Linked DNA regions of Homo sapiens: region 2 is linked to region 1. Evidence: fine-mapped expression QTL. Tissue or cell type: esophagus muscle. Region 1 holds a variant in brackets; the other region holds the start of a gene. All regions are shown on one strand. Distances are from middle to middle.

Region 1 (2,750 bases):
CCTCCATTTTGGAGAAGAGAAAGTGGAGGTGGAGAGGAATGGGTCTCTGTGGTCACACAGCAGGGAGAGTGGGGGGGACACAATTCAAAGTCCGTGAGCCCAAGGCCTCGCCTTCCCAGGATGCAGGGTGCACACAAAAGCCCCCCATGACCCTGAGGTTCTATGAGGGGGTGGTGGACATTTCGGGAGGCTGATTTTGAGTTCTGGCAGGGTCTGGCCAAGGTGATAGAGTCAACCCCTCCAAGCTGGCCTGGGAGGGAACAGACGTGAGTTTACTCTAAAGGAGCCAGGGGGCTTGAGGGGCCTGCTTGAATGCAGGAGAAGGGCCTATAACTTACAGCAAGTCAGAGCTGGGAAGCAGGGCCCAGCTCCTAGGGTGTGGAGGTGGGCCATTCACACAGCCAGCGGAGCCCTCAGCCTGGGAGCAGGGTGGGAGAACACAGCAGCCCTGGCCCCAGCTCTGCATCGCGGGCTGTGACTATAGGAGGCCACTTCCCTCCTCGGCCTCAGTTTCCTCACAGGCAAAGGGAAAGACAGACACAACCCACCGTGCCCTCGGCCAGTCCCCCATAGCATCTGGACGCAGGGCTCAGGGATAGACTGGAGGGACGAGACGGGATTAATAAACCCTCTCTGGAAGGCTGGATAGAAGCCTGGAGAGCTCCTCAAGGCCCCCATTTTACAGATGAGGAGACTGAGGCTAGGTCTGTCCAGAAGCCTCATCCAGGACCTGGGTTCCCAGCTGCAGGAATGAGGACCAGCCATTGGTTCCGCAAGTCCTTTCTATCCATTGCAGGGAATGGCGCCCTGCAGCCTTGCTTTAACACTGGCCGCTTCTAATCTCCTGGGGCATCTGCAAGTGCTTCTCCCACCTAAAGGGCCTTCCTCCATGCCTTTCACCTGCAGACCTCTTCGTCCATCAGTATTTGTCTCTCTGTCTTTCCACCTCCACCAATAGGCTAGAAACTGTCCCTCATCTTGTTCACCTCCATCTTCCCAGTGCCCAGTGTCAATCATTTGTTCGTGTATTTCATTCAATGTTCATGGGATTCCCTACCACACTGGGCCCCAGGAGAACAGAGGTGAGCAAAACAACCTGACCCTTCGCTCATCAAGTCTGGTGGGGAACAGA[C/T]GTCACTCAATTACCACAAATAAATAAACAGCTTAACACAATGAGATGGGTGGTGGGGAGGAGCCCCAGGCCTGTGGTCAGCTTCTAGCTGAGTGCCTGAGGCAGCCTGTGCTTCCCTGGGGAGGAGGCATGCGAGGGCTCACTGACGGCTGAAGAGGAGTCTTCTAGGTGAAGAACCATGTTCAGGAAATATCTGATGAGCAAATGAATGAAGCTGCTTAGCATCTCTTCTTGTGCCAGTCTAATGCAGGCCTCCCCACAAATTCTGAGTGAGGGGATGCCTGCATTCACACAGCCAAGCTCTCTGGAGCTGACAGGCCAGCTTCACACATCCCCACAATTGCCAGCTGCATTACCAGGTCAGAGGCCCCCAAGACAGCTAGGAGATGGGGCTTCTGCTCCCTTCAGCCCAGCCCCCTAGCCCTGCGGTGAGCTCTGCTCAGATAGCCCAAAAAATCCCAAAGAGTTGGGTTTGAGGGATCCATGGTCCACAGCATTTCTGCAGAGCTCCGGGCCCTTGGCCACCGCCAAAGCTACAAACCAGCAATGAAGAAGGTGACGAAGTTGTCCAGCAGACCCTCGTCGTCCTGGGCTCCCTCTTCAGCTGAAAAACAAGGAGAGTCTCAGTTCCCAGCAAATCTTTGCTCCCTTTCCCCATGGCTCATAAAATAACTAACTGTGTTTCTCCTCTTAAGCCAAACAGAGTCAGTGGCGATGTATCACCTGGGGAACGTCCTGGCCCACCCCGCCCTCCCCAGTCCGCAGAGGGGGCCCTTGCACCTTTCAGAATCTGTGTGAGGATGTCGGCAGGAACCTCCTCGCCCCTCTTCAGGGCTTCCCGGCGGCGCTGGACCCAGTCCCTGCCCACCTGGCGCAGGAAGCGAATGCTCTCCCGGACCTCCCGGAGCTGCTTCCTCTTCCCTGGCAGGAACTAAACAAGAGTTTCAGCTCCAGATGGCCAAGTGAACACGCATGTTCCCTCTCCCCTCTCCCCCACCACCCCGAAATGACGTTAGCGGCACTGGCAAGCTGGGAGGTCAGTAGAATGTGAGAAATTCTAGAAAAGATGAAGCAGCCAGGGAGACTGGATCAAGATGGCAGACTGAGCCCAGGCCTCAGCCTCCCTTTCCTGCACCAAATCCTTAGCAGTGGTGGGCGGGATGGCTTAAAACATCCACGTGGCCCTGCAAGGTAAAAAGGGACCCCTGATGAGTGGAGGCAGCTAGGCTTGCATCGAAGGAAGAAATCCCAAGCAGTGGGAAGTAGAGTGCGATCAACTGCCAAAAAGACGGGGCGGCATTGGCGGCTGCAAGCTCAGGGGCCGAAGTCCCAGGGAACGGGAGGGGGCCCTGAGATGAACTCAGCTATCACCTTTCCCCTTTCTTCCTTCTTCATGACTGGAATAAGGAGGTGATATGTGGAGCTGCAGCAGCCATCTTTTTAAAAATCTATATATTTTAATTGATACATAATAATTATACACACATATGGGGTACATGTGATATTTTGATACATGAATACAATGTGCAATGGTCAAATCAGCATATTTAGGATATTCATCACCTCAAACATTTATCATTTGTGTTGGAAACATTTCAAATCTCCCTGTTTTTGAAAT
Region 2 (2,608 bases), 71 kb after region 1:
CAACTCCAAGTCAGCCTTCTTGCCCTTCCCCACACCACCTGCCCCTGCTGGCCGAAGGCTGGGACACGGCCCTGGCCCCTGGGGCCTCTCCACCCCAGGCCTCTCACTGCCCAGATGCTGAGGCAGGAATGCCTTGGGGCTGCCCGTCCTGCTCCATTTCTGCATTCAGCCAGGCAACATTTGCCCACTTGGGTGTGGTCAGGCCCTGGGGCCTCAGACTCCCACAAGAGGAAAACAAATAGCGGTGGCACCACCAGGTGTGCACAGAAGCAGGGGCTCCACCCTCAGAGGGAAGATGGGGGGCCCAGGGGCTTCAACAAAGAGCTGTCGCTCAGTCTTGAGAGAGCTTCTGCAGGCCAGGGCGCCATCCCCAGGAGAGGGCACAGCACCCACAGAGGTGGTGGCGGAAGTGGCAAGGGCATCAGGATGGGGGTGAGACGCTCGTGGGGGACAGTGGCCCCAACCCCCTCAACAAACCCGGGCCACACGTTGACCACGCCCACGCCAGGGCCCCCTGCTTTCACTGCCCCGGGGACAACACAAAGGAGCACTGACCGGGACAGATGCCTCTCCACCTTGGTACCCCGACAAGGGTGCAGCTGCTCGGGGTGGGACGCTGAGGGGTCGACTCCAGGGGACTGGGGCAGAAGAGCCCCCAACCTCTGAGGAAATGATGACATCATCTGTCCGTCCGTCCGTCCTTCCTGCTTCAGGAGGGGAAACTGAGGCCCCGAGAAGGCCCAAGTCACAAAACTAATGAATGGCAAAGCCAAGAGTCGTCCTGGGATGCGCGGTCTCCCCGCCCCGTGCCAAATGACTCCCTGTTGGGGCTTAGAGTTCCCGAGTCCGCCGCCCACTCTTGGCCCTCGCCCCCGCGGGGTTCCGATCTCTGCTCCAGGACTCGGCCTCCCGCGCCCCGCCCCGCCCGGTGGCCGCGCGCCCGCTCACCTGGCACAGCAGGTCCCTCGCGTAGCCGGCGCACGCGGCCCACTCGGCGGCGTCCACGCGGCTCGCCAGGGCCCAGAAGCGGCGGGTCAGCTCGGCGTCGCGCCCCTCATCGCAGCAGCCGAAGTCCGAGTACTGCGCGCAGAGGCGCAGCGGCTGCGTCGGCCGGAAGGGCGGCCTGAAGTCCAGGCACTGCGGATGCGCGGCGGCCCCGAGCACCCAAAGCGCCAGCAGCGCCCCGGCCCTGGCCCGGGCCATCGCTACGCCCCGCGGGGGAAGAGGCGGAGGGACGGCAGCCCCGGTCCCCTCCCGGGGCGCTCGCGGCGGCAGGGAAGGGGCGGGCGCTCCCCTTCCCTACACGCAGGGCCTCGAGTTTGGGGACCTCCCCTTCTAGGAGGTCACCTCTGGTCGGGGACACTCGGCGGGACTGAAGGAAGAGGGACGCGGCGCAGAATGCGGCACGACCTCTTTTAACCGCTTTCCAAATTCGATGGGAGTGGCCCGGTCTGTTTAAAGCCCCGGTGTGTTTTCCCGGTTCCGCCTGGGGCCCTGCTTCCTCCCCACAGGGCGCTCTTTAGCCAGGGAGGCGCAGGGCCAGAGGCCTGGACTCCTGGGCTTCGGTTCCACCTCCCACTGGGCTAGGGAAACGGATGCCCGCAGCCCGTCCCCGAAAGCTCCCACGTAACATTTTAAAAATGGGGGTGCGAGGGAAAGAACAGGGGGTGTTGCCCCAGGACTCTCAGGGAGAAGTGAAACCTGGCGTAGGGGTGGGGAGGGAGGACGGAGCAGTCTCCGCAGTCCACCCTTTGCCCTTACTGTGGGCTTCTTCCCAGTCTCTGCTCCTGGGGCAGCGGATTCTCCTGCAGCCCAGGACCCACTGGGGCTCCCCACTTCCACTCTCGCATAGGGAGCACTGATGAATCTACCTCCTGGGATGGGCATCCAGCCCTTTGTTCCGCTGCCCCCGCTGGAGATTCAGACCCAACCCCGCCCCACCCCCCCACACACATACAGACGCACACACGCTGTCTTACCTACCCCAGAATCTCATGGCACCAAAACCACCCACACAGACAAACACACACACACTGTCTCACCTACCCTAGAATCTCACAGCACCAAAACCACCCAGGCATTTTTCTCAAGTGGACCTCAGCGTTTGCTTCTCCCTGGAGTGTCCTTCCCCATCTTCTCTGTCCAGTGAGCTCCTACTCCATCTTCATGGCCCCAACGCACACATCCGTCCTCTGCAGGTCTCTTTGGACTGTCCTGGGGGATCATGTTTCTGTCTTTGGGCCCATGCTCCTGGCAGAGCTGGGGGTGGATGAGATGCGGCAGGGCTGGAGCACTCAGAGGTCTGTGGCTCTGGCCTGAACAGGTGCAGTGTAAGAGTCAGGGTCTCCGCACAGCCAAACATCTCTGAGTATTTGAAACACGGGGAATTTAACGCAGGGACTTGAAGCCAAAGAGGCTAAGAAGCCATACAGGGCTCAGTGAAGTAACCTTGAGATCAGCAACAGTAGGAACAGTCCCCAGGTCCTTGATGCAGGAAGAGCAGATGTTACTGGAGCCAAGGAGCTATGGTCACCTTGTCAAAGCTGGACCCTCACAAGGCCTGTCTGGCCACAGCTGGAGATAGCCACTGTCAGAGATTCTGCACAGA

The links. PIP is the estimated chance that this variant, and not a neighbour inherited with it, causes the effect.
Region 2: HHIPL1 starts here. The variant in region 1 is fine-mapped to the expression of HHIPL1 in esophagus muscle (GTEx, PIP 0.96).

What each region holds. Positions count from the first base shown.
Region 1 is chr14:99,715,123-99,717,872 of GRCh38, reverse strand. CYP46A1 (cytochrome P450 family 46 subfamily A member 1) reads right to left here. Exons shown (of 15, transcript NM_006668.2): 8 at 1,913-2,063; 9 at 1,674-1,736. Among named protein-coding and RNA genes, the nearest start is that of CYP46A1, 32 kb to the right of the region's middle. The variant C/T (reference allele first, on the strand shown) is at 1,133.
Region 2 is chr14:99,643,803-99,646,410 of GRCh38, reverse strand. It overlaps HHIPL1 (HHIP like 1), which reads right to left and starts at 1,282. Exons shown (of 9, transcript NM_001127258.3): 1 at 949-1,282. The coding sequence starts at 1,203.